Homo sapiens: one gene and its partners. The protein of the gene in region 3 interacts with the protein of the main gene of each other region in a pairwise test. Each region holds a gene or a part of one and is shown on either strand. Other genes may lie near its edges. The genes, in order: MEP1B, PLIN2, SFT2D2 and TIMM44.

Evidence for each region.
Region 1: the proteins of SFT2D2 (region 3) and MEP1B interact in a protein complementation assay, tested with the Homo sapiens proteins (one study listed by IntAct).
Region 2: the proteins of SFT2D2 (region 3) and PLIN2 interact in binary tests that used the Homo sapiens proteins (3 or more experiments, as listed by UniProt).
Region 4: the proteins of SFT2D2 (region 3) and TIMM44 interact in binary tests that used the Homo sapiens proteins (3 or more experiments, as listed by UniProt).

Annotation. Positions count from the first base shown.
Region 1 is NC_000018.10:32,193,033-32,200,055, forward strand, and holds part of MEP1B (meprin A subunit beta isoform 1 precursor), read left to right. Parts: intron 1-2,374; coding exon 2,375-2,453; intron 2,454-2,794; exon of another isoform or gene 2,795-3,935; intron 3,936-7,023. UniProt on the Homo sapiens protein: Membrane metallopeptidase that sheds many membrane-bound proteins. Exhibits a strong preference for acidic amino acids at the P1' position. Known substrates include: FGF19, VGFA, IL1B, IL18, procollagen I and III, E-cadherin, KLK7, gastrin, ADAM10, tenascin-C.
Region 2 is NC_000009.12:19,117,488-19,124,510, reverse strand, and holds part of PLIN2 (perilipin-2), read left to right. Parts: intron 1-863; coding exon 864-946; intron 947-3,345; coding exon 3,346-3,631; intron 3,632-4,679; coding exon 4,680-4,861; intron 4,862-6,055; coding exon 6,056-6,190; intron 6,191-7,023. UniProt on the Homo sapiens protein: Structural component of lipid droplets, which is required for the formation and maintenance of lipid storage droplets.
Region 3 is NC_000001.11:168,235,985-168,243,007, forward strand, and holds part of SFT2D2 (vesicle transport protein SFT2B), read left to right. Parts: intron 1-604; coding exon 605-640; intron 641-727; coding exon 728-786; intron 787-3,146; coding exon 3,147-3,176; intron 3,177-6,516; coding exon 6,517-6,556; 3' UTR 6,557-7,023. UniProt on the Homo sapiens protein: May be involved in fusion of retrograde transport vesicles derived from an endocytic compartment with the Golgi complex.
Region 4 is NC_000019.10:7,940,652-7,948,623, reverse strand, and holds the start of TIMM44 (mitochondrial import inner membrane translocase subunit TIM44), read left to right. Parts: upstream 1-4,957; 5' UTR 4,958-4,972; coding exon 4,973-5,017; intron 5,018-7,426; coding exon 7,427-7,522; intron 7,523-7,972. UniProt on the Homo sapiens protein: Essential component of the PAM complex, a complex required for the translocation of transit peptide-containing proteins from the inner membrane into the mitochondrial matrix in an ATP-dependent manner.

The DNA of each region.
Region 1 (7,023 bases), on a different chromosome or scaffold from region 3:
CAAGCCACCATAACTCATTACATATGTCTTAGTCTTATTGATTTGATTGATTTTCATTATTGGAGCAATATGACATTTGATTTTAAAATAGGACCTCACAGATTCAATCTAGTGGAGGCAAAATTAAACTGAATTTGTAAACATCTTCAATGAATCAGGCTTTTTACCCCAATAAATAGATTTTGTGACTTCTACCCTGGCCTTAGCTAAAAATAATGTTGCCAAGTTAAGACCCTCCCAAACCTATTCATAAAGAGTGCTGATTCTCATCTAAGTCATCATGCCACACAGATAAACACAAGAACCTTGCAGGTAGATTAGGGGGACTAAAAAGTTCACTATCATGAAAGCACTGTTTTTTTCAGTGTTCTCTCACAGCATGGAAATAAGCACTATTTTTCAAAAGACAAGATATAGTTTATTGCCCACTAGATTGAAAAATATTAAGAAACTTACTACTTACTATCCCTTTTGGTGATGATAGAGAGAAACTAGGATGCTTGTTTAGGAATGTGTTTAGAACATGTTATTATACTGGAGAGTGTATAAATTTGAAAAAAAGAAAGAAGGCAATTTGAGAAGAGCTAGCATAGTTTAAAATATATACACCATGTGGCCTAGAAATTACCCAGTAGATCTTTTCCTGTAAAATTCTGCTCTTCCTTCCAACACAGTCCTAAGTCACTCCCTTACTTCCTATATCGTAAGCACCAACATCCCTCACAGTCCTCCCACCCCCAGGAAACAGAGCTGCAGTCTCCCAGGCTTAGTCCTGAGCCTACTCTTCTATCTGTGCTCTCTCTTGATCTCACCTTCGTCCAGGGATTCAAATGTCATCTCCATGCCAATGAATCCAAAGGCATATCTCTGGTCCTCTCCTTTCCCTGAGCTCCAGACTGGTCTATCCAAGCACTAATTTGCCAGCTCCACTTGAATGTCTACAAGACGTCTCAAACCTAAGGTGTCCTCTGATCAGGTGAACTCTGACCTTCCCCCCAAACTGTTCCTCCCCACTCTCCTGTCTTCATAAAGTCATCCTCACAACCTGACTCTACTCAACTGAACACATAAAAACCTTGAGCGCCACCTTTGCTTCTCCTCTCTCCTTCACTCCCCATCCAGCCCGTCAGCAAGTTCTATCATTTCTAGCTCTAACATACACTGCAAATCGTCCACTTTTCTCCATCACTCTAATTCAGGCCCCATCATCTCTTGCCTGGCTTTTTCCATTAGCCTCCTAATTTGTCTTTCTATTTCAGATATTGTTCCCCTATAATCTTTTCCACCCTGTTACTTGTCCTTATCTCTCACAGCAAAGTCATTTTTCAAACAGGCAGTGACTTCATTTCACCTCCTGGCTTGAAACTCTTCCATAGTTGCCTATGGGTTTAGAATCATCTCCCGATTTAGTCCCAGCTGTCTAAGCCTAGCATGCCTTAGCTCCTGCTTCTGTCCTCCCCTCTTCCCTCCCCTCTCCTCTCTTTTCCTCTCCTCTTATCTCATCCACGTTCTCTCTTAGACTCATCAGGCTACTGGTCTCAACACATATTCAAAACATCCCAGGCATATTCCCACCTCAGAACAAGAACAACTAATGTTCCCTCTGCCTGAAACCACCTTCCCAGGACCCCTTTCAATGCTGGCTCTGTCTTGCGATCCCTATTTCCCCTTAAATATCATCCCTTCATAGACGACTGTCCTGATCACTCCATCTCATGTACTCCGTCATCCCTGTGCCCTTGTTCACATCTCTCTTTCTAATTTCCTCCCTATTGCATTCATCCTGCTTAAACATTTTTTTTTTTACATACTCTTTCTGTCCTCCACTAGATATAAGCTCCATGAAGCCAGAGACCTTTATTACCAAGGAATCTCTATTCTCTAGGACAATATTCAATTTGTGGACTGAGTAAATACATTAGTAAAATATTACTCATTTTCTATTATACAGTTTAAAATCCTTTAAAAATTTTTGAAAACTTTGGCCCAGCTCATGTGTGACTTTTTCTGATATTGTGAGATCCAGATTATCAAGGTCTTGCTATCACTGTTTTCTTGCAAATTTTTAATCTTTAAGTGTAGGAAACTAACCTATAAATCTACCAATATTTGTAGTTCAGTTTTCCAACAGTTATTTTTTGCATTATTCCTTCTTCAACTGTATTAACAAAATGATAGAAATTAGTAATTTCTTCCTAGAAACTTTGTTATATTATGATAAAAGTAGGGCTACACACACACACACACACACACACACAATTTGTTTGTGCGAACTGGGAGAGCTTTAAACTTCATTTATTTCTAGATTAACTACAGGTTTCCTAAGTGTTTGCCTTATTTGTTTAACTAGCCCTTTTGCATTTATTTTTGACAGGCACAAATTAGAAATTCCATCATTGGAGAAAAGTATAGATGGCCTCATACCATTCCATATGTTCTAGAAGATAGCTTGGGTTAGTATGCACCTTGAAGTATCCATAACTAATGTCTATTTCTGACAAAATATGATTATAGTGTTTCAAAGGGTGGGCTTATATAGTCTTTAAGGTTTTGTTTGGTTTGCTCCTTTGTGTGGCTATGTACATTTACTTTGAAAAAAAAAATAAGCAAAACGAACAATGAAAGTAACCTAAATGACTCTGTCTGAAATATTTACAGTGTCTTGACCAACAAAGCAATGAGTTCAACCAACGTTTATGGAGAGCCTACTCTGTTATGCTAGGGACATAACGATTAGGGAGCCAGTCTTTTTTTGTGGGGGAGGGGCTCTGCATCATATATTCATTGAACCAGTGCAAAAACATCTTTTGGAGAGCAGACAGGCCAGGCCAGGGTCCCAGGAGGATGCTCTGCTGGGGGTGCAGTGAGGGTGAAACATGGAAGAAGAGGGCCTTGCTTCCTCTTCCCATGGCAGGTATGCTCCTTTCTCCTAGAGTCTGGATCCCTGGTGAGTGAGGCCACTGACTGACTGTCCATCTGCCTGTCCCTCTCTATCCCTGCAAGTTCGGGGAAGAAGGGTCATTGGCAGCCCGGGGCTGGGAACCCAGGTCCTCTGGTGCCCCCGCTGGCTCGGGCTCGGTGGCCTTGGGCTCCTTGGCCTCATCCCTGTTTCTGCTGGCCTTCTGGAGCTGGTGTCACTGCGCCACCTCGGCTTTCAGACTCTCCAAGTCTTTTTGGCTGAGAGGAATGAAGAGGATGCCATTGATGCCTTTGAACTGCTCCAAGACGCTGGCCATGCTGGGGGCTGTGAAGTTGAGGGGCGGGATGTTGTTGCTGGAGCCGTTGCGGTAGATCTCATGCATGGCGCGCCGCAGGGCCACGGCCAGCTGGGTCAGGCACTTGAGGTACTCAGAGCTCTCCTTGGTCTTCTCCTGGTCCTCGCCCAGCTGGGTCTTACAGAGGGTGTGCAGCCAGCCCTTCCTTCTGGTGCTGCAGGGCCGACCGGAAACTCAGCTTTGCTCTCATAGACCGAGGTGATGAGGTGGTGGCCAAGGGCCACCTTGAGAGCTTTGGGCCCTTGGTACTTGGTGCTGACGGCCAGCGCGTTGTCCAGGAAGCACAGCGACAGGTCGTACTCCATCACCCTGTGCAGCACCCGCCTGATGTTGTCCAGCACGCCACCTCGGGGTGTCTTCCCCAAGCACCAGCGCATGAGGTAGTGGGCGCCCTGCAGCAGGCTGAGGGCCAGGGACAGCTGCCTGCTGGTGAAGCAGTGCAGGGCCAGGTGCATGTTTTCCTGGATGGTGTTGGGGTGCTCGATGCCCATCACCCGCACGCTCATCAGCACTGCCTTCTGCTGGCTTCTCAGGGCCTCTGCGTACTTGCCCATGATGTAGTGGAGGCGGGCAAGGAGGCGCAGGCAGGCTCAGATCTCCACGTGCACTGCTCCCTACACTTGGTTAAACAGGTGCAGGGCCTGATTGATGGGCTCACAGGGAGCCAGTCTTTATTTTAAAGCAGTGGTTTACCCTATGATCAATTATACATATGAGAAAATACATAAAATAACCAACTAAATTTGAGGAACTGGCATTGTTTTATCAACATTTTATTTTGCCAGGTCAGGAACTTAAACAACAACCTAACATGATAAAAGAGCTTTCATCATCCTCTTTTCATACAGTAAATAATGTTATTAGTGTAGTATTAAAATGTTAAAAAGTCAGAAGAATCAAATCCAAAACTAAGAACAGCTTTTCTATAGAAGAAATTTAAATATGTTGGAAAACTCTAAACATGGTCTTCATTTTAATCTATGGACTAGTGGCAATGATGCCACTGACCAGCATTAGCTTAGAAATTGCTGTTTGGGAAAAGTTTGAGTAAAAACCCTGCTATAGTTTTTTAATTTTTAATTTTATTTTTCATTTTTGTTTTTTTTTTTTTGTTTTGAGACAGAGTCTTGCTCTGGAATGCAGTGGCACAATCTCAGGCTGGAGTGCAGTGGCATAATCTCGGCTCACTGCAGCTTCTACCTCCCAGGTTTTGGCGATTCTCCTGCCTCAGCTTCCCGAGTAGCTGAGATTATAGGCATGTGCTAGCACACCTGGCTAATTTTTGTATTTTTAGTAGAGATGGGCTTTCACCATGTCGTACAGGCTGGTCTCGAATTCCTGGCCTCAAGTGATCTGCCTGCCTTGGCTTCCCAAAGTGCTGGGATTACAGGTATGAGCCACTGCACCCAGCCTGTTATAGTTTTTTAAAATTTCAACTTTTATTTTAGATTCAGTGGGTACGTGTGCAGGTTTGTTACATGGGTGTGTTGCATGATGCTGAAGTTAGGGGTACAAATGAACCCATCACCCAGGAGTTGAGCATAGCACCCAATAGGTGGCTTCTTCAACCCTTTTCTCCCTCCCTTTCCCCTCTTGTAGTCCCCAGTGTCTTTTGTTCTCATCTTTACATCCATGTCTATGCAATATTTAGCTCCCACTTATGGGAAAACATATGGTATTTGGAAACCCTGCTATTTTTCTTAAAGATCATGCATTTCAGTGGAGACTCACATAAATCAAAAGTGAATTATGATAGAATGGAATAAACATTATGATTAGTGATGTGTTCAAAGAGCTATGGGAGCACATTGGAGGGGCAGTAAACTCAACCTGGATAGAAAAGCATATGCATTATAAGCAGAGGACGCTATATAGCAGGACTGCCATGAAGACTGTGTAAGTTGTACACCGTACAACTGACATGACCTCCTGGAGCTGGTGCTGCCATGCCACCTCAGCTTTCAGATTCTCCAAGACTTTTTGACTGAGAGAAATGAATGAAGAATGCCATTAATGATGTAGAGCTGCTTCAAGAGGCTGCTCTCAGGTGGCTGGGCCAGGAAACAAGTGGAGCTGATACCAGGTTTACGTTCTTTCTGTTCACCAGGAGGCATTTGTTTCTTTGTGTGAAAGTGCTGTTCACCCATCTGGCCAGCCAGCAACTGCAGCACCTGCTCAGAGGTAGTGCCTCTTCCTAATTGGCACACAGGCACCATGTGGGCTAGTGTGGCCTCTGATAGCAAGGGAAGGGTGCTTTAGCCAGATGCATCACGATCTGCTAAGTCCTGAAGAAGGGAGAAAATCCTGAGCTGGAATTTAGATTGAGAGTGGGGAGCTAGGAAGTTGAGCAGGTAGGCGGAACGCAAATGGGGAAGGACTTGGGTCTTCCCGGTGTTAAAGAACTTGTCGTGTATACTAATAACATGGGGCCACCAAAAGTATTATTGTGGAAGTGAGATTGTTAAAATTGCAGTTTAAAATAATCACTTGGGTTGAAGTATAGAAGATGTGTCATTAGTGGGGTAAAAAGAAGATAGGGAGACCAGTTAGAAAACTACTGAGGAAATTCAGAGAAAGAATTAAGAGATTCCTAACCAAGATAAATCTAAAAGCTATTTGGGATGCATTTGTTAGATTTAGTGATTGACTGTAAGAGGTCAAGAAGAAGGTGGGTGTAGAGAAAGAGATTCTAGTGCTCAGGATTCAGTCCTGGGTAGCTGAGGGCATGGTAACGTCTTCAACAAGAATGGAGAATTTAACCTTGAGGAGCATGAGACAGAGAAGCATGGTGGAAATTAGTTTTTGGCATGCAGAATTTGAAATGCATCAGAGTCACTGTGGTGGAGATACCAAATAAATTCTTGGTATATGACCTGGTCATTCAAGGTCGAGAAATGTTTGGGAGTTATTAGGATGTAAGAGATGGTTGAAGCCGTGAGTATGGATGAGCATTTCACACAGTGCCTTGCATAGAGCAGGTGCTCCATAGATAACTGGATTTTATTGATTTATCCTGGAAGGTTGTGTTGAATAAGTAAGAAGATGGTCGAGAATGAAACTCAGTGCCATTTTTTGGAACTGGTATAGAAGGAAGATCTAGTGGAAGTTATTGAGAAGGGGGAATTGGCCAGAAACATAGATAAAAAACTAACAGTAGGGTAGGGAAAGCCAGGGCAGGAGTAGTTAGCGGGGTTGGAAGCCATAAAGAGCACAGGGGGCATGAGGAGAGAAAGATGTTCATTGACTTTTGGAATTAGGAACCTGAAAGATTTTGAATATACATGTTTTTTTGGTTTAGTCTTTTGATTAAAAAATTTTTAAGTTCTTTTGTTTTAATTCTTCCTTTTTTTCCTTTCGTTCGTTCCTTCCTTCCTTCCTTCCTTCCTTCCTTCCTTCCTTCCTTCTTTCTTTTTTGAGACGAGTTCTCACTCTATCACCCAGGCTTCAACCTCTGCCTCCCAGGCTCAAATGATCCTCCCACCTCAGCCTTCCAAGTATCTGGGACCACAGATGCATGCCACCATGTCCAGCTAATTTTTTGTATTTTTGGTAGAGATGGGGTTTCACCAGGCAATCCACCCACCTCGGCCTCCCGAAGTGTTGGGATTACAGGCGTGAGCCACCACATCCAGTTATATTTCTTTTTTTAAAAAACTTATTCTCCTAAGTATGTTCCATGAAAGATTAGGGAGCTTTAATTTTATATATATCTTAGGCTATTTTTTTTTTGCCATGTATTTAACCATGA
Region 2 (7,023 bases), on a different chromosome or scaffold from region 3:
CAGCCATTCCAACTCTGCTACTTCCTAAATGAATTTGGTACTAGTACTTGGTTTGGTATTCTTAGTGGGAAGCTCACACTAAAATCTCCCTTGTTAGGGAGATCCAGGGTGGTCTTGGCATACTCTTTCCTCCTGAGGACCCCAAATACACTGACCTGTGCTGAAGTAAGCGTAGGTAGGGATTAAACTAGCATGGGAATGCCGATTTTGAGAGAGTTTCCAGATACCTTATTCTCTGAATGACAGTTCAGGGAAAGCCCGGCTACTCTTGGCATTAACATTAGGGGCCAGTTGATAAGGAAGAAGCTTCAGAGCCAGCTTCCTGTTTGGCCTGTCACTGCCTCTGCCTGCTCCTCCCTCACACCCCCATATTTCCTTACCTTTAGAAGAGAGTTGCCAGCAACTTGCCAGGCCTCTTCCTGTCAGAACTAGATAAACCAGGCAATGCCTTCTGTTGTATAAGATCAACATTCTTGCCTTTTTTTTTTTTTTTGAGATGGAGTCTTGCTCTGTCACCCAGGCTGGAGTGCAATGATGCATCTTGGCTCACTGGAACCCCTGCTTCCTGAGTTCAAGCGATTCTCCTGCCTCAGCCTCCTGAGTAGCTGGGACTACAGGCGCACACCATCACGCCCAGCTAATTTTTGTATTTTTAGTAGAGACGGGGTTTCACCATGTTGGCCAGGATGGTCTCGATCTCTTGACCTCGTGATCCGCCTGCCTCAGCCTCCCAAAGTGCTGGGATTACAGGCGTGAGCCACCGTGCCCAGCCCATTATTGCCATTTTTTATAAGGCCTATGGTAATGTGTGTTCATTCTATACCTATAGTACTACATTAACATTTTCCCATTTGTGATTCTAGTTGCAGTTGCCAATACCTATGCCTGTAAGGGGCTAGACAGGATTGAGGAGAGACTGCCTATTCTGAATCAGCCATCAACTCAGGTGAGCTTGGGACAAAAGTGCTGAGACTTGACACTTCACATGTTTTCATCTTCTATCTGTTAAAACAAGCTGTACATATCACAAACAGGCAAATACTTGTTTTCCCAACCTGGATCTGGATGTATGTTTGAAAAATAATGGCCACTTCCTTACTTCCTGAACTGTTGTCAAGTTGTATCTACGAAGCAGAGAAGAACTAGCCTCCTTTGGATTAGAAAACTTTTAGTGTGTTGTCTATCAGTTTGTGTCTTTGCTCCTATAAATGAAATTGCTGTCTCAAGTAACTGATTGTCTTGTGGTATTAAATAAATGCAGACGTGATATATATAACCTTTTCTCACCTGGCTTGTACAATGCTGCCAGGAACTACCATCCATATGGGATAGCTAGCCAGTGTTGACAAAAATGATAGGCTTGTCTGTCCTGGTGATCCTTTGGTTCAGATAATGTCCTAAAATTTTGTTTCAAATTAAGAATACAGAATGGCACAAAAGGATACCAGTTAGGGAAAAATATAGCTCTGTGTCTTTTCATAATCTAAATACAGTCATCTGTCACTTAGTGATGGGAATATATTTTGAGAAATGCACATTAGGTGATTTTGCCATTGTGTGAACATCACAGAGTATACTCACACCAACCTAGATGGTAGAGCCCAGTGGTCCCCAAGCTTTATGGCACCAGGAACTGGTTCCATGGAAGACAGTTTTTCCATGGACCAGCAGGGGGTGGGTGGTGTTTTTGGGATGATTCAAGTGCACTATATTTATCATTAGATTCTCATAAGGAGCATGCACGTGCACAGTTCACAAGAGGGTTAGGGTTAGGTCTCCTATGAGAATCTAATGCCGCCTCTGACTGGTAATGGACTGGTAATGGACTGGTAATGGTCCATGGCCCGGGGGTTAGGGACTTGTGGTGTAGCCTGCTATATACCTAGGCTATATGGTGTATAGCCTGCTATATACCTAGGCTATATGGTGTATAGCCTGCTATATACCTAGGCTATATGGTGTATAGCCTGCTATATACCTAGGCTATATGGTGTATAGCCTGCTATATACCTAGGCTATATGGTATATAGCCTGTTGCTTGCTTCTAGGCTACAAACCTGCACAGCATGACTACACTGACTACTGTAACACAATGATAAGTATTCGTGTATCTAAACTAGAAAAGGTACAGTGAAAAAAAAAAGTATACCTGTTATAGGGCAGTTCATTATAATCTTATGGGACTATCATTGAATAGTGGTCCATCGCTGACCAAAATATTATGTGGTACACAACTATAGGTAGGTTTAGTGTATAGCCTTTAGAATGCTTGTGCAAATCTTTTAAATTTTTCACTTACATTGCTTGAGACTGTGCTAATGGTGAGAGTTATTTTCCATTTCGGATATTTTCTTTAAATGTTGGTAACTTGTGTTCTTTTTTTTTTTTTTTTTTTTTTTTTTGAGACAGAGTCTTGCTCTGTCACCCAGGCTGGAGTGCAGTGGCACAATCTCGGCTCACTGCTGTCTCTTCCTCCTGGGTTCAAGCAATTGTCCTGCTTCAGCCTCCCCAGTAGCTGGGTTCACAGGCACGCCCCGCCACACCCAGCTAATTTTTTTTGTCATTGTTTGTTTGTTTTTGAGACAGAGTTTTGCTCTTGTTGCCCAGGCTGTAGTGTAATGGTGCAATTTTGGCTCACTGCAACCTCCACCTCTGGGGTTCAAGTGATTCTTCTGCCTCAGTCTCCCAAGTAGCTGGGGTTACAGGCATGTGCCACCACGCCCAACTAATTTTTTGTATTTAGTAGAGACGGGGTTTCACCATGTTGGTGAGGCTGGTCTCGAACTCCTAACCTCAGGTGATCCAACCAACTCAGCTTTGCAAAGTGCTGGCATTACAGGCATGAGCCACCATGCCCTGCCATGTATAATAACTGCATACTAATAACACCCCGAGGGCCAGGTATAGTTTGATCTTCAGTTTCCTCTCTGGATTTGTGTGACTTTGGAATAAGCTATATAACTTACCTTCTTTTCTTTTCTTTTTTTTTCTTTTCTCTTCTCTTTTTTTTTTTTTTTTTTTGAGACAGGGTCTTGCTCTGTCACCCAGGCTGAGTGCAGTGGCACAATCACAGCTCACTGCAGCCTTGGCAAACAGACAAATTTCATATCTGTTTACTTCATTTGCTCCTCCTGCAATTCCCAAGGATTGGCAGGTAGGGCAGATATACTTGATAGGGAAATTCAGGCTCATCAACTCTTAGTGACTTGCCCAAGACCTAAAGCTAGAGTGAGAGGACTAGATTCCTTCTTTAACTCTTCAGCTGTGCTGCCTTAGTTAAGACCTTAGGTATGTCCTTGTGCTCATTTTTCTCACCAGCCAGGGGATCTGCTTTTCTACTTACAGATTGTTGCCAATGCCAAAGGCGCTGTGACTGGGGCAAAAGATGCTGTGACGACTACTGTGACTGGGGCCAAGGATTCTGTGGCCAGCACGATCACAGGGGTGATGGACAAGACCAAAGGGGCAGTGACTGGCAGTGTGGAGAAGACCAAGTCTGTGGTCAGTGGCAGCATTAACACAGTCTTGGGGAGTCGGATGATGCAGCTCGTGAGCAGTGGCGTAGAAAATGCACTCACCAAATCAGAGCTGTTGGTAGAACAGTACCTCCCTCTCACTGAGGAAGAACTAGGTAACTGGAATTTTATCTTGAAATACTGTTTTATATTAAATCTTTCTTAAACAGCTTCATTGACATATACTCTCATCTTGAGTCTAAATTTACACAGTTGTGCAAGCATCACTGCAATCCAGTTTCAGAACACTTCTGCTACCCCAAAAGATCCTCATGCCTGTTTGCAGTCAGTCCTTTTTAATTTAATTTAATTTTATAGAGATGGGATCTCACTATGTTGCCCAGGCTGATCTCGAACTCCTGGGCTCAAACGATCCACCTGCCTTGACCTCCCAAAGTTCTGGGATTACAGATGTGAGCAACCACTAATCTTTTTGCCTCTATAGATTTTCCTTCCTAAAGCAATCATAAAGTTCACATTGAATCGTACGTAGTAAGTTTTGAAACCTTAGCAAAAATTGGCCTTGAAAAATATTTTCTGTAAATGGATAGTCTTTAATGGATTGCTTTATAAAATCCTCCTTACAAAGAATCATCATTAGGTAATGTGTGCCAGGTACCATGCCGCTCAAGTTCACTCTAGGCTGGGAGCAATGGTGCATGCATGCCTACAATCCCAGCACTTTGGGAGGCTAAGACAGGCAGATCGCTTGAGTTCAGGAGTTTGAGATTAGCCTGGGCAACATGGCGAAACCCTAAAAAACACAAAAATTAGCTGGGCATGGTGGCTTGTTCCTAGAGTCCTAGCTACTCGGGAGGCTGAGGTGAGAGGATCAGTTGAGCTCGGGAGGTTGAGGCTGCAGTGAGCCAAAATTGTGCCACTGTACTCCAGCCTGGGCAACAAAGCAAGACCTGTTTCCAAAAAAAAAAAAGCAGTTTACTCTAGTGGGAGAAACGTGTAGATGCATGCAGTGTGTATCAGATACAGTAATATGTTCAGGGTAGTCAAGTCCAGCAGCAGACGTGAGCAGTCTTGGAAAAATGACTGCATGATTGCTAAGTGATTGGGTAGAAGTAAGAAAGTCAAGACCCAGGTTAGAGTCCAGGCCTTATCACTTGTCACTGTGATCCCTTAAGTTTTTTTGTCTCTTATTTCTAACTTCAGAAAAAGAAGCAAAAAAAGTTGAAGGATTTGATCTGGTTCAGAAGCCAAGTTATTATGTTAGACTGGGATCCCTGTCTACCAAGCTTCACTCCCGTGCCTACCAGCAGGCTCTCAGCAGGGTTAAAGAAGCTAAGCAAAAAAGCCAACAGACCATTTCTCAGCTCCATTCTACTGTTCACCTGGTGAGTAAAACTTTATTTTAAGGTGTCTGAAGTGGGTTCATTTATCTCTAGGCCCAAGAATTAAATGTAATCACAAAATCCAAGAATTTCATTCTTAGTTGACAAACAACCCAATAGAAAACTGGACAAAGAATATGGAGACAGCTCACAGAAAAAGGAAGTATAACTAGTTGAAATATAGGAAGCAATGCTAATCTCGCTCTGAGGGGTCAAATACTGACATCTCTCTTGTCCTGCCACACGGGAAATGTGGCTGTTGGCAACGGTGTAGAGAAAGAACCACACTTGTGCAGCTCTTGCTCTAAGGGACTGATTCAAGAGACAGTTTTAGTAAAGTTACAAGCATACCTACACTTGGAGCTGTTTTACTTTTTATCTTACAGATGTGTATATTTGTTTAAAGTTGCAAGAGACTATAACAATGCACATCCACTAACAGGACTAATTAAATTGATATATCACAATAGACTACTGTGTAGCCATTAAAGGTTTCCAAGTTAAAGAACAGTATGTACCATTCTGTACTGCCATGAGAAAACCATTTCTTCTTAGAAGGGGAAATAGTGGTTGGCAACAGGGAAGAGGAAGGTCAAATTCCTTTCTGTTTTGTAATGCTAACTTATCCTTTACTCATGTACACATTAAATTTTAGTTGCTGGCTGGGCGTGGTGGCTCATGCCTATAATCCCAGCACTTTAGGAGGGCAAGGTGGTTGGATCACCTGAGGTCAGGAGTTCGAGACCAGTCTGGCCAACAAGGTGAAATCCTGTCTCTACTAAAAATACAAAAATTAGCTGGGCATGGTGGCGTATGCCTGTAATCCCAGCTACTCGGTAGGCTAAGGCACGAGAAGGAGGTTCAGTGAGCTGTGATCGCGCCACTGTACTTCAGCCTGGGTGACAGAGTGACACTCAAAAAAAATTTTTTGTAGTTTTTTAGTTGCTTTACCTGTGCTAAACTGGAAGTAAATGTGGAGTCAGTGATTTAATAGTTAAATAGAGGCAGTAAAGAGCTACTACTGCTTGGTTAATTTACACATATTGATAATAAATAATAATGATAGCAGGAATAGATCTTATTCAACTCCAGGAAATTCTTAGTTTTTATGTTGCCTGATTTACATCATACATCTGCAAACAGGCTAACGTGAATATCTGACTTGTGTGTTCCTTTGTCTTGTTTCAATGTGTCTAGATTGAATTTGCCAGGAAGAATGTGTATAGTGCCAATCAGAAAATTCAGGATGCTCAGGATAAGCTCTACCTCTCATGGGTAGAGTGGAAAAGGAGCATTGGATATGATGATACTGATGAGTCCCACTGTGCTGAGGTAAGATGACTGGGACGGTCATTTGTTGGTTGCTGAAGAAGTTCTTATCAGACTTTTCATTTCAATTTTTCCATACTATGTCTTAGAATACTCTTCTCTATCAAAAGGTTGAACAATACCATGTACATAGGTGGCTAGTTATGTGGCAGAAAAGCAAAACTAGGCAGCGAATAATTTTATCTAACAACCTATGAGTATACATATGCCCCAAGTGAGATACAACTAAATGAGAAACACAGGCCTTGCCCTCATAATGGGTACAGACTAACAGGGGATACAGCCAGCCATGCTGTCCTATTTTGTGCCTTTTTAATGCTCCTTGCAGAAGAGGGCTATCTCATAGGCAGTACACTCAGAGTAGCCAAGTCCGGTTGTTGTTTAACGGCATAAATACAGGTACTATTGGCTGGGCGCGATGGCTCACGCCTGTAATCCCAACACTTTGGGAGGCCGAGGCGGGTAGATCACGAGGTCAGGAGATCGAGACCATCCTGGCCAACATGGTGAAACCCTGTCTCTACTAAAAATACAAAAAATGAGCCAGGCATGGTGGCACGTGCCTGTAGTCCCAGCTACTCGGGCAGCTGAGGCAGGAGAATAGCTTGAACCTGGGAGGCAGAGGTTGCCATGAGCCGAGATCATGCTACTGCACTCCAGCCTGGGCAACAGAGTAAGACTCTGTCTCAAAAAAAAAAAAAAGAAAACATATGGGAAGACTATCTCAGGCAGCCTTGGAGTGGGGGTAGTTGAGTCACATTGCTTTCTGGAAGAGATGAATGGTAAGCTGAGAACTAATGGGTGAATAAACTAGGTGAAAGGGCAATAAGGTGACC
Region 3 (7,023 bases):
GACATATTTGAGTAGTTATTGTTATAGAAGGATGGCGAAGAAAGGCATGGCTGACTGCTCTAGCACCAGTTGTCCTTGGCCAGCCTCAGATGCCCACGGCCTGGACAAGTCTCTTGCAGAAAGAGCTTTCTAAGAATGGCCTTAGGGAAAGTGTTAGGTGATAGGTACACAAGTAACTGGCATGCTGACTGTGAGATTGATATCTCAGGTTAACCTTTGTCCTCACATGTGCTTTCTGCTGCAGAGACTAGCATTTGGTAGGAGTTAAAATAGAAAGATTTGTGTTAAGCTTACTTTAGTGCATTTGAATGAAAAGATGGATGGACGGATGAATGGGTGGGCCTGAAATGTGATTTGTTTGCTGGGCAGAGGTTCTGGGAAAACTTGAAAGTAAAAGAACATCTTATCTATGTGAATCTTTATTGGCTAGTTTGATTTCATGGAGATTTTTAACTATTCTGCCAAATATGGGTGCTCAGGTGGGTTAACTGCTTTGAGATGAAGGATGCATAAGTTTTGTGCATTTGTGAAGAATAACAAGTTTTGAGTTTTTTTTTTCCTGCCATGTTATTGTCATTAATTAATGTTTCCTTTCTTCCTTTAGTTGTGTTTTGCACTTACCCTGTGTTCTGCCTTTTGGGTAAATGTATATTTTAATTTTTCTTAACCATTTTGGCTTTTGCCCCTTGTCTCACACTCTCCTATAACCATATTATTATTTTTCCAGTGGCATAACAAGGGACTTGCACTTATCTTCTGCATTTTGCAGTCTTTGGCATTGACGTGGTAAGTAACCTTTTAAACAATCCCCTCCCACATAGCCCACTGAATAATGTAGCCAAAGGAGATAAAACTCACATATTGTGGGTGGGAGAATTAAGAAAACACAGAAGCTGTTTAATTTAAGGATTCGTAATGATGAAAGTGAAGTCAGGCTCCAGAGCAAATGCCTATCAACCCAGCCCACTGCCAATAGATGGCATTAGTGGTCTTGAGTGGTCACAGGAGGCTCCTTGTTTGCCTGCTGTGGCATTTTTGCTGAACTAATGGTTGATTTTTGAGATGTTACAAATATTATTAAGCCACTCATGTCCGGTAAGTGCAAGGACAACAAAAGTATTATAAGGGATGTTAAAAAGGCTTGTGAGTCCAATAGAGGTTAACAAAAAAGGAAAGTGGTAAGAAAAATAATGAATGTTACATTTGTGATAGAATGAATCATTTAACAGAAGGACAAAGAGTGAACTGTCAGCAGGAGATGAGGAACAGTCACTGACGAAATGGAAAAACGTGTGTCTGTGGGCTGTAGGATCAGCGTATGTGCTCAGAGGCTTGTTGGCTTTTGGTAATTCAGCTGAAGAGTAGGAAATTGTAACTCCAGAGCCAAGTATAGTAAAAGGGCCGCTGGAGACATTTTGGGAAACCATGAGTGGGGCTGTAGGTTCATGGTCCTTTCAAGCCTATACGACCTCAGAGTGAGAGGGGTGGTGGCATAGTTGGAATCTGTAGGTTCCAAGACATTTCTGTAGTTCTTTCAAAGTTTATCAAGGGATGGTATCTGCCAGAACAGTTTCAGTATAGATGTGACTCACCTATTTTTGAAAAAAATGTTTGCTACAGTGTAAAGAAAGGAGGATTGTGGACATTTTAAAGTTCTGAAGAATTGGTTAACTCCTATTTGGTAGAAATGAATCTTGAGACTGTAAGCTTAACTCCCATCCCTCCCTTTAGCAATTTTGGACTTTTGAATAAATATAGTTACAAATTGCCTTTTGGAATTTACTGTGTTGACAAGTAATTGAGCTTCTGTACATGTTAAGTATAAGATATGGAGAAGGATGCTGGTGTTTGTGTTTATGTGTGTGTGTGTGTGTATGTTTTTTTTTTTTTTAAATGACATGCACATTTGAGTGGTAGACTGTTTATATTTTGATTTTTCTTCCAGGGCAGAAATTGGTACCTATATACACACACCTTGCTTTGCTTATAGACTGATTTTGAATCCAGTTTCAGAGGTTCAGCATTCATATGGGTCCAGCTGAATGGTGATATTCCCTTCAACACTCATGTGTTCTGACTGTGTTTGCTTTTCTAAGGGCTAACTTACAGTCTGCCTGACACACAGTGCCTGGTTCTTTAGCATTATGGAGCCTGTTCCTTGTATATGGTTTCCTTCTAAGTGACAGGGCTGAGCTAACTGGAATTTACCAAGATACCTTTGGACGTACTACATTTTCACTCATAGAGTAGTTGGTAGCATTTTTTTCTTCTTCTTTTTTATTCTCTTTTCTCTTCTTTTAAAATTAATAGGAGCAGAGCAGAAAATTTATCCCAATTAGGTAGAAGTTAAATTCTGTTTAGAATTTATAAAATGTTAGGAGTTCAACTGTGCCAGGTATGGGTGGCTCACACTGTAATGCCAAGACTTTGGGAGGCTGAGGTGGGAGGATTGCTTGAAGCCAGGAGTTTGAGACTAGCCTGGACAGTGTAGCAAGACCGGGTCTCTGCAAAAAAACAAACAAACAAACAAAAAAAAACATTAAAAAATTAGCCGGGCATGGTGGCACATACTTGTAGTCCCAGCAATTCTGGAGGCTGAGGCAGGGGGATTGCTTGAGCTTCCTAGACTTGAGCCTAGAAATTCAAGGCTGCAGTGAGCTATGATTGAGCCACTATATTCCAGCAGCCTAGGTGACGAGCACGACCCTGTCTCAAAAAAAAAAATAAATAAATAAATAAAGGAGGGGGGTGCGGTTCAACTGTTCTGGGTTTTATTTGATATTTTTTCAGAATAGAGTTTCTGTGCCATCTGGGTATTTGAAATCTGACTGTTTAAGGTGATTGTTGCTAGTTCAAGGTTATAGCAGTACTGCATTGAGGCCGAGGTCATACGGGTTATCTCCACATGAACCTTTTGCCCTTCTTCTGTGGCTGCCTATCTGTACATGGCCATAGTGTGTGTGTTTGGGTACACGTGCATGCACATGCGTGGGCCTTTGTGTGCACATGCTCATCCCCCAGGCTGAGTATGGGAGAGGGTCTGGATAGATCACTGCAGGTATTCTTACAGCTCAGAAGCCCATTCTGCTGGATAATCTGCTACTCCCTTCATCTCATTTGACCCTTTGTTTTGTTTTTCATTATAGGTACAGCCTTTCCTTCATACCATTTGCAAGGTAAGACTGTGTATTTGGAAATAATGATTTCTGTCATTTTAATTCAGAGTCTGCTTTCAGAGAGTATAGCCTATTTTATTTATCTTTACTGAAGTCTTTTGAGTCAAGTAGACAAATACTATACATCTCATTTATAGATAAGTAAGTTAAAGGTCACCCCACCACCCACTCTAATTATACAACTAATGATGGATATTTACCCAGGTACACTGATTTCCAATGCTGTGAACATTCTACTCTTATATATGGTGCATATATGCACATTATTACTCTTTTAACCCGTAGCTTTGAGTAGGGTTTTTTTTTTTTTTTTTTTTATAAAGGTGAATGTCATTTCATATCACTGAGTAAGATATGGAGGGATCTCAATTCGTGCTTCTTGCAGTATCCCACTGCTGGGAAGGTTTCACAAGAGTTTATAAAGGGAGAGTAAGCAGTACCAGGGCTTCCTAATTAGCAGTGTGACCTCGAGCAGCTCTCTTGACCCCTCTGGCCTCAAAGCATCGATAAGTAGACTGAGTTGGTCTAGATCATCTCCAGAGGCCTCTTTTAGCTCTGAAATTCTAATACTCCATACCTCTTTAAGCACTTTCAGTGACGGACCTCTCAAAATTAGCCGCATGATCTTTGCCTCTGACTTTGTTCTAATGCAACTATTTAACTTCTGTTCTTTTTTTTTTTTTTTTATCATTACCTGTTAATTAAAAACAAGCTTTTTAAAAAAACTGTACTGGGCCAGGTGCAGTGGCTCACGCCTGTAATCCCAGCACTTTGGGAGGCCGAGGCGGGTGGATCCTGCTGTCAGGAGATCGAGACCATCCTGGCTAACACAGTGAAACCCCGTCTCTACTGAAAATACAAAATATTAGCTGGGCGTGGTGGCAGGCGCCTGTAGTCGAAGCTACTTGGGAGGCTGAGGCAGGAGAATGGCGTGAACCCAGGAGGCGGAGCTTGCAGTGAGTCGAGATGGCGCCACTGCACTCCAGCCTGGGCGACAGAGCGAGACTCTGTCTCAAAAAAAAAAAAAAAAAAAGTACTGAGGAAATGAAAAATTATGCATGACTTGGGAAGGAGGAAGAGCAATCTTATGTCTTAACAAATTCCAAGACTGTTGCTGACAGTGATTTGAAAGTATTGAGGAGTGATTGATTGGATGCGAAGTTAAGCCTTTCAAGTGAAAGGCAGCTGAGTGGCTTTGTTGATAGATTCTAGGAGGGTAACAGTTATGAAATACTCCATGCAGACCTGGCTGGTTTTGGGGCCTGGTGGCTTGTCTGAGAAGAATATGGGCAGGGATGTCCTGGGAAGCTAGATTTTTATGTGAAGTAAACCGGAGTTCATCATTACTGAGGATCCAATGAGATATTGATCAACCTGCCAACATATGAATATTTTTTGGTCCCTGAACCAGCTGCATAGTTTTCAGGGCCCAGTGCAAAATAAAAATGTGAGCTTCTTGTTCAAAAATCATAGGCCGGGCACGGTAGCTCAGCCTATAATCCCAGCACATTGGGAGGCTGAGGTGTGCGGATCACGAGGTCAGGAGTTCAAGACCAGCTTGACCAACGTGGTGAACTCCTGTCTTTACTAAAAATACCAAAATTAACCGAGCGTGGTGGCGTGCACCTGTAATCCCAGCTACTCAGGAGGCTGAGGCAGTAGAATCGCTTGAACCTGGGAGGCGGAGGTTGCACTGAGCCGAGATCACGCCATTGCCCTCCAGCCTGGGCAACAGAGGGAGACTCTGTCTCAAAAAAAAAGATTAAGAATTTCAAGATGGCAACATCAAATCAAGGCATTAAACCCAATGTGGACCCTTCTGAGTATGGGGCCAATGCAGTTGCACAGGTCTCATTCGTGAAACTTGCTTGGAGTCATTTGTCAGAGCTTCAGTCTTGATCTGGATTGGCATGTATAAAATTTATGTACAAGTGATTGATAGAATGAGGGAATTTTATTTGAGATAGTGAGTTTCATGTGCTGAGGAGACGAATTACTCCTCTAGTAGGGAGGGAATCACAGAGCTAGATCCCACCCTTCTATTCTTTTTTTTTTTTTTTTTTTTGAGATGGAGTCTCACTCTATGGCCCAGGCTGGAGTGCAGTGGCCCGATGTCAGCTCACCTCAGTCTCCAACCTCCTGGCTTCAAGCTGTTCTCCTGCCTCAGCCTCCATGTGCACGCCACCATGCCAGGCTCATTTTTTGTATTTTTAGTAGAGATGGGGTTTCACCGTGTTGGCCAGGCTGGTCTCGAACTCCTGACCTCAAGTGATTGGCCCACCTCGGCCTCCCAAAGTGCTGGGTTTACAGGTCCGAACCACCATGCCTGGCCCCACCCTTCTATTTGTAAGTTCCCCTGGAATAGCTTTTCCCACAGTGTTCCACAGAAATAGTGTTTCTGTGGAAGAAAAGAGTTCTATGATCAAGTAAGTTTGAGAAACAGGTTAAGCAAAATTAGGTAGGTTCCTCTTTGCCTGGCTTGCTAGATCCTTCCATATGCTATGTGTATTGTGAGCTGCCATGAGGGGGACTTATGTGGCCATAAAACCCTTCTTGTGCAGAGACTCTTCTGAGACTACAGTGCAGAGTATATCTCAAGAAATGCTGCCCTGGAACCATCTTGATATTAAAATGCAGTGCCTACTCATGGAAATGCATCCATTCACCTCTCCCTCCCTTATGTGACTCCCAATGTCCTTAGTGCAGCACAGTTGAGAACGTGGAACAGAGCTGGGGTATGAGAAGCCTAGTGCCACATTGCACAGTGTGGTGTGGTGGTGGAAATGGAAGTGCTTGCTTGGGTAGAATAGTAATTTCTTGAAGACCAACTCTTCCTTGCACCCTCTACACTGAATTCCAAGCAGTAAATACCTGTGATAAGGCCATTATAGCATATTAATAAGTGCTCAGGACCCATAGTGAGCTCCCTTCTGCTGCCTGCTTAGAATGAAGAAAGGTCCCAGTTAATATTTGATTTAATGCTGTCAGTGCATTCTGTGATTTTGACCGATATTAAAGTGCAGCAATCCTGACTGATTTCTTAGTTTCTGACAGTCTATGTTATCTTTTTCTCTGATTATGATGGCTAATCCCATAATCAGACTGTCGGGTAAGTGGGGACATCCCCTCTTACAGATGAGGAATTTGAAACTCAAACAGGACAAGGAACTTTCCCAGGATAGTACTACTAATAAATGTTGAAGCTGCAGTTTGATGCTGTGAAGGTCTGATCTTTCAGTCTAGGTGCTTTCTACTCTGCAGCTTCCACTCTGGGTGCCCTCTAAAGGAGTGCCTTTGGGGTGATGACGTTCCACTCATCTTTGTGTCTTTTCTTTCCTAGGGATGCTGTGAAGAAGTGTTTTGCCGTGTGTCTTGCATAATTCATGGCCAGTTTTATGAAGCTTTGGAAGGCACTATGGACAGAAGCTGGTGGACAGTTTTGTAACTATCTTCGAAACCTCTGTCTTACAGACATGTGCCTTTTATCTTGCAGCAATGTGTTGCTTGTGATTCGAACATTTGAGGGTTACTTTTGGAAGCAACAATACATTCTCGAACCTGAATGTCAGTAGCACAGGATGAGAAGTGGGTTCTGTATCTTGTGGAGTGGAATCTTCCTCATGTACCTGTTTCCTCTCTGGATGTTGTCCCACTGAATTCCCATGAATACAAACCTATTCAGCAACAGCACATAAGCCTTGGGTGCAAGTGATTCCCAGGTGGCAAAAGGCAGCCCCATCAGAGATCACGGGAGCAACAGTAAGGGACAGAGTTTTGGGGTCCACTTGTCCCTCAGCATGGAAGCCATCACCGTGGTCCTGCATAGAGTGAGTCTGCTTCTACTCTG
Region 4 (7,972 bases), on a different chromosome or scaffold from region 3:
TTACAGACGTGCGCCACCATGCCCGGCTAATTTTTGTTTTTGTTTTTTTGTTTTGTTTTGTTTTGTTTGTAGAGACGCAGTTTCACCATGTTGGCTAGACTGGTCTCGAACTCCTGACCACAGATGATCCGCCCATCTCGGCCTCCCAAAGTGCAGAGATTACAGGTGTGAGCCACCGTGCCCAGCCTCGTATACTATTCTTGCAATTTTTTTTTTGTAGCTTTGAAATTTTGCAAAATAAAAAGTTGGGGAAAACAAAGCACTCTCGCTCCTTCCCATATGTTCTTCCAGCTGCCATCATTTCACCTTCTGTGCACAGTGAATATTCCTGGGAAGAGTCTGTGTTCTGTGTCCCAGTATTCTCAACCACCGCTGTGCTGGTGAAATGTTTAATAACTGGCTCACCAGAGAAACAAACCAACCAAAGAGCTCCTGACTTGGAATGTCTGCCAATTCCTGTGGTGTAAATACTCCCACCACTTGTGGCTGATCTGCTTGTAGGTGATTTCAAGCTACAAAGATGGCATCATCAAACAGAACTGGTACACAATGCAGTGACTCACATAATATAGTATTTCCAGCACGCAGACATCATATATGTAAATAACCCCAAGATAAGCCAGGTGCAGTGGCTCATGCCTGTAACCCCAGCACTTTGGGAGGCCGAGGTGGGAGGATCGAGTGAGCCCAGGGGTTTGAGACCAGCCTAGGCAACATAGCAAGACTCTGTCTCTACAAAAAGATTATTTATTTACTTATTTGAGACAGAGTCTCGCTGTGTCACTCAGGCTAGAATGCAGTGGTGCAATCTTGGCTCACTGCAACCTCTGCCTCCCAGGTTCAAGCAATTCTGCTGCCTCAGCCTCCCTTCTGAGTAGCTGGGATTACAGGCATGCACCACCACATCTGGCTAATTTTTGTATTTTTAATAGAGACGGGGTTTCACCATATTGGCTGGGCTGGTCTCAAACTCCTGGCCTAAAGTGATCCACCCACCTCGGCCTCCCAAAGTGCTGGGATTATAGGTGTGAGCCACTGCACCCAGCCTGTCTCTACAAAAAATTTTAAAAAGTAGCCAGGCTCTGTGGCTTGTGCTGGTCATCCCAGCACTTTGGGAGGTCAAGGTGGGAGGATCGCTTGAGCCCAGGAGTTCGAGATCAGCCCGTGCAACGTAGAGAGACCCTGTCTCTACAAAAAAATACAAAAATCAGCTGGGCGTGATGGTGCATGTCTGTAGTCCCAGCTACTCGGGAGGCTGAGGTGGGAGGATCACTTGAGCCTGGAAGGTCGAGGCTACAGTGAGCCGTGCTGGTGCCACTGCACTCCTATCTGGGCGATAGAGTGAGACTGTCTCAAAACAAAAACAAAAACCCTCAAGAGCACAGATAGTAGTAACATGTAGCAGCATAATTAGGAAGTGATGAATTTTGCATTATTACTTTTGTTCTAATATAATCTATTTGATCTTAAGTTTATACAATTAATTGTTTACATATTGGCCATGTTTAACAAGAGGCTTTGAATTCTTGAAGATGTGCCGGCTGGCTCTTGCGAGTCAGTGCAAGCTGGCCCCAGCATGCCTCTGTAAAACCATCTCCACTCACTGAAATCTGGCTCCCAGGCCCACCACTCACCCAAAACCCCTCTTGCTTATCTCACCAATGACCTCCATATTGCAAAATGCAATGGCGGTGGCTACATTTCTGTCCTTGCCTTGCCTGAACTGTGCAGCACTCGCCTCTGCTGTTTCCATCTGCCTTCTCCAAGTTCCTCCAGATTGTCTTCCTTTTTTTTTTTTTTTTTGATGGAGTCTTGCTCTGTCGCCCAGGCTGGAGTGCAGTGGTGTGATCTCAGCTCACTGTAACCTCCACCTCTTGGGTCCAAGCGATTCTCCTGCCTCAGCTTCCCAAGTAGTTGGGACTACAGGCACTTGCCACCACGCCCGGCTAATTTTTTGTATTTTTAGTAGAGATGGGGGTTCACCATGTTAGCCAGGATGGTCTTGATCCCCTGACCTCATGATTTGCCCATCTCGGCCTCCCACAGTGCTGAGCGCAGTGGCACACGCCTGTAATCCCAGCAATTTGGGAGGCCAAGGCAGGTGGATCACGAGGTCAGGACTCGAGACTAGCACGGCCAAGATGGTGAAACCCCGTCTCTACTAAAAATACAAAAATTATCCGGGTATGGTGGCGGGCGCCTGTAGTCCCAGCTACTCGGGAGGCTGAGGCAGGAGAATGCCATGAACCTGGGAGGTGGAGCTTGCAGTGAGCCGAGATCACGCCACTGCACTCCAGCCTGGGTGACAGACTGAGACTCAGTCTCAAAACAACGACAACAACAAAAAATTGTTTTTTAGAGATGGAGGTCTCGAGGGGGCATGGTGGCTCATGCCTGTAATCCCAGCATTTTGGGAGGCTGAGGTGGGAGGATCACCTGAGGTTCAGGAGTTCGAGACCAGCCTGACCAATATGGAGAAACCCCGTCTCTACTAAGAACACAAAATTAGCTGGGTGTGGTGGCACATGCCTGTAATCCCAGCTACTTGGGAGGCTGAGGCAGGAGAATCACTTGAACCTGGGAAGCAGAGGCTGCGGTGAGCCAAGATCGCGCCATTGCACTCCAGCCTGCGCAACAAGAGTAAAACTCCATCTCAAAAAAAAAAAGGCCGGGTGTGGTGGCTCACGCCTGTAATCCCAGCACTTTGGGAGGCCGAGGCAAGCGGATCACGAGGTCAGGAAATCGAGTCCATCCTGGCTAACATGGTGAAACCCTGTCTCTACTAAAAATACAAAAAATTAGCTGGGTGTGGTGGCAGGCACATGTAGTCCCAGCTACTCGGGAGGCTAAGGCAGGAGAATGGTGTGAACCTGGGAGGCGGAGCTTGCAGTGAGCCAAGATCGTGCCACTGCACTCCAGCCTGGGCGACAGAGTGAGACTCTGTCTCAAAACAACAAAAAAAGAGATGGAGGTCTCATGCTGTCACCCAGGGTGGAGTGCAGTGGGTGATCATAGCTCACTGCAGCCTCTAACTAATGGGCTCAAGAGATCCTCCCACCTCAGCCTCCTAAGTAGCTGGAATTCCAGGCGAGAGACACCATGCTTGGCTTATTTTTTTATTTTTGTAGAGATAGGGTCTCGTTATGTTGCCCAGACTGGTCTGTAACTCCTGGGCTCAAATGATGCTCCTGCCTCAGGCTCCTGAGTTGCTGGGATAATAGGACTGAGCCACGGATCCTGGCTTAAAGGAGTCTTCTATCTCCACTTTATCTTTGGGTCTTTGACATGCTTATATGACACACTGCCTCTGAGTGTCCAATGCTGTAGTTTTCTTTCTTTCCTTTCTCTCTCTCTCTTTCTTTCTTCTTCTTTTTTTTTGACACAAGGTCTCTCTCTGTTGCCCAGGTAGTGTAGTGTAGTGTAGTGTAGTGTAGTGGCACGATCACGGCTCACTACAGCCTTAACTTCCCGGGCCTCAACGATCCTCCCATCTCAGCCTCCTGAGTAGCTGGGACTACAAGCACATGCTACCACGCCAAGCTAATGTTTTGTATTTGTTGTAAAGAAGAGGTCTTCACTATGTTGCCCAGGCTGGTCTCAAACTCTTGGGCTGGAGAGATCCTCCCGCCTCAGTGTCCCAAAGTGCTGGGATTATAGGCATGAGCCACCGCGCCCGGCCAAACTCCGTACTTTCAACCACAACTAAGAATCCATATTTCTAGCCCAGACCTTATTCTTAGCAACACACCTGTGTACACCAACCGCTTAACTAGTTTGCTCCTCTTGGCATCAAGACATCTCGAACAAAGCCAGAGTGGAAGCCCTCATCTCTTACCCCCACCTTGAGGGGGAGCTCCTGAGATGGAGAACACAAGTCTATCCATCGCAGAAGCCAGGAATGCATGCTCTCCGGGGCCAAGCTGCCTCCCTTTGAAATAATGAAGTCCCATAAACCCATATCACAGGTTAGTAATGCAAAAAGACCGGGTGCGGTAGCTCACGCCTGTAATCCCAGTGACTCAGAGGCTGAGGCAGGAGGATCGCTTGAGCTTGGGAATTGGAGGCTGCAGTGAGCTAGATTACGACACTGCACTCTAGCCTGGGTGACAGAGCAAGCCTCTGGCTCTATAAAAAAAAAAAAGGATCCAATAAGACAAACAGCAACAGCAACATACATTAGCTCTCCCAGGGGACCAACCCTCCTCCTCATACCCGGATTGCATGGCCATGTTAAAATACCGCCACCTGGTGGCGGCATTCTTCGAATGGAAAATAGCATCTGGGGTGCTGAAATGACAAAGGCCTGAGCGTCTTCAGATCAGAGTGTCAGTTCACACTGAATCGAAGTAGGACTGGACCACAGTCAGCCCGCTCTCAGCTTCCTCTTCTTATTCGGGGTCAAAACCAACAGGCGTCTTCCCAAAGCGCCGCACAAGAGTGGGCTCCTTCGCTTTCTCGGAGCGACTCACTTGCTGGTCTCTCAGCCATTGTCAATCAATCAGTCATTGCAGGGGCAGCCATAGACAATTACTCTGGAGCTGGTCCGCCGGTCAATCAGAATCCAATCGAATCCGTCCTTGTGGTCGGTGGATCCACGTGCCTGTACCACCTGCCACCAGCGCCCGGCGCGTTCTGTAGCCGAATCACCGCAAGTGACGGAATACACGCCCCTGGGCTCCGCCCCCTCGTAGTCGCGCCCAATCACAGATCTGACCCTCCCAGGAGTGCCCTCCCCCGGGCCACATCCAGTCACGGGCCCCGTCCTTCCAAAACACTGCCCTATCAGAGGTCAAGCTCTCTAGGCATTCCCTACCCTTTTAATGCCCCGCCCTATGACGGACCCAATCGGAGGGCTCTCCCTACCCGAAACCCCGCTCCTGGAGCGGCTTTTCTCAGGCTTGCGCGGCTCTAGGCCGAAGCGGCGGATGACGCAACCGGGCCGCGCCGCGAGAAGGTCACACGATTCTCCAACATGGCGGCGGCGGCCCTGCGGAGTGGCTGGTGCCGCTGTCCACGGGTGAGCGGCGGTGCGGCGCTGGCAGGGCGAGCTTAGGGGTCTTCTGGGCCTTCGGCCACCAAGGCTTTCTTCTCAGACCCTTGGCCTTCGCGACCCTTGCTTGGGCTCCTTAGAAAGCTTGGGGTTAGATCTTTGGGTAGCAGAGGCCAGGACAGGGGGCACAGAGCGTGGCCTGAGGGCGGGGACCGAGCTTACCGGGCAGGGGGCGGCGATGCGCGGGACCTGGGAGGGAGCTGATCACCCTTCGCCCTCTGATCAGACTCCACGTATACAGGAGAGAGAATGGTAGCCGGGGCGGCGGCGTCCCGTGGAAAAAAGTAGAGGGGAAGGCAAAAAAACGTGAAATTCACAGCTCGCGGTTAAATGCCAAGTTCTCTACCGAGAGCATTTCTTGTCTCGTTTCTTCTAACGTTCATTGTGGATGTGCGAGAGGTGGTTCGCGCCCTAGCAGGCTCTTGGGTCCACAGGGCAGTGGCAGTCAAGACGTGTAAGGCGCACTCAGAAAGTAGTACTTCATATTGCTCGTGCTCTTCGTTTTTTCTTTTTTCTCTTTTTTTTTTTTTTTTGAGACAGAGTTTCGCTCTTGTCGCCCAGTCTGGAGTGCAATGGCGCGATCTCGGCTCACTGCAACTTCTGCCTCCTTCTGCCTCCGGGTTCAAGCGATTCTCCTGCCTCAGCCTCAGGTGGATCACCTGAGGTCAGGAGTTCGAGATCCACTGGCCCACATGGTGAAATCCCATCTCTACTAAAACCCCATCTGTACTAAAAATACAAAAAAATTAGCCGGGCATGGTGGCGCGCTCCTGTAATCCCAACTACTTGGGAGGCTGAGGCAGGAGAATCACTTGAACCCGGCAGGCGGAGATTGCAGTGAGCCGAGATCCTGCCACTTTACTCCAGCCTGGGCAACAGAGGGAGACTCCGTCTCAAAAAAAAAAAAAAAAGTTATCCTCAAGTAAATACAGGAGATAGTAGGCACCTGTGTAAGTTTGGGATGTTGCATAGGGTTCTCAGAGGTAGGAGGCAGAGAACAGAGAGAAAAACGGCCCAGGAAATGTGGAAATGGTGGAGAAGTTGTACCTGGTCTTTTGACATCAACACGCCAGGTTCTGTGCTGGGTGACAGGGTGCCGAGCTGAACAGGACCTGCACAGAGCTTTTTTTTTTTCCCCCAATTTTTTATGGAGGCAGGGTCTAGCTATGTTGCCCAGGCTGGTCTCAAACTCCTGAGCTCAAACGATCCTTCCGCCTCAGCCTCCCAAAGTATCGGGATTACAGGCATGAGCCACCAGCTCAGTGCCTGCACAGAACTTAAGGCAAGATCTCGGCTCACTGCACCCTCCACCTCCCGGGTTTAAGCAATACTACAGGTGTGTGGGACTACAGGTGTGTGCCACCACGCCCGGCTAATTTTTGTATTTTTGGTAGAGACGGGATTTCACCATGTTGGCCAGGCTGATCTCGAACTCCTGACCGGGTGATCCTCCCACCTCAGCCTCCCAACGTGTTGGGATTACTGGCGTGAGCCACCGCGCCCAGCCAGCAAGTGCCTTTTACATGAGATCAGCCCAGTCTTTGCCCAGAGCGACTCCCCTAAATTACTCTGTTTATAGCTCAACCCTTGAGGAGGACATTGTAGGTTTATTCCAGAGTTGTCCCTGGGGCAACACATTATCGATGTTTGTGTCTGAAAAATCCAGTTCTCTCATCTTTGGAGGCTGGCAGAAATGGGGTGGGCTCGCAAGAGAAGACTGCTTGCCACTAGCATAGAAGCTTAGAGTGCCTACTTTCAGACTAAGGGATTAAATTGTACATTTAGCCTTCTTCCCCCCATGGGTTGGCATTTCCTGGGACCTGTCCGTTTTCCCCCAGTTTCAGGGGCACGAGGATAGATGTAGGCCCTGGAGGTACAGACACAGCATTTTCTCTTTCCACCAGCTTCTGCTTGCTTCTCAGACTTTGGGAAGATTACAGAGTGCCCGGCATGCATCAGGCATAAGATACAAATTGGCCAGTGAGGCCAGGTGCAGTGGCTCATGCCTGTAATCCCAGCACTTTGGAAAACCGGGGGAGGGGTGGATCACCTGAGGTCAGGAGTTCGAGACCAGCCTGGCCAACATGGCAAAACCGCTTCTCTCCTAAAAATACAAATATTAGCCGGATGTGATGGCGCATACCTGTAATTCCAGCTACTCGGGAGACTGAGGCAGGAGAATCGCTTGAACCCAGGAGGCATAGGTTGCAGGGAGCTGAGATCGCAGCACTGCACTCTAGCCTGAGACTCCGTCTCAAAAAAAAAAAAAAAATGGCCAGTGAGTTGCAGGTGACCCTGCTGTTTTGTGTGTGGTCTGCTTACTTCTCAGTCAACCTCTTGTTAGAATGGATCTTTCTCTTCTCTCCCCCCAATTAGAGATGCCTCGGCAGTGGAATCCAATTTCTTTCCAGCCACAACCTACCCCATGGGTCGACCTATCAGATGCGCCGGCCGGGCGGAGAGCTGCCACTGGTGAGTGACTCAGGATGCTCGGGCCAGCAGACACAGGGGAGGCCCGAAAATTCAGATCCCATTGGCAGGAGGGAGGGGTGGGGCTGTAGAGGTGGCTCGTACCATCTCGGTGGTGGGCCTTCTGTGTCCGGGGCTTTCAGAATGACAGATCCCAGTGTGCCTGGCCTTCTCGGTCCCAGAAACACTTGACCTGCCTCTTGCTTGATGTCGTAAGGGGATAAGGTGCTGTCAGAATAGCCCTTTATGTTGGCTCTAATGCTTGGAAGAGACCCCTGTATTGAACTGAATTCTACTTCCCTGTGACCTCTGCCCGTGGGTACCTCACCAAGCATAGCTGTTTCCTTTTCTAGAAGATAGCCCTTTGATCATTGGTACAGAGTCACCTTGTCACAACCAGACCTCAGTTTCTCCTGGTCATTCCTCTTCAACTGTGCTTCTGTTGGTGTCTCA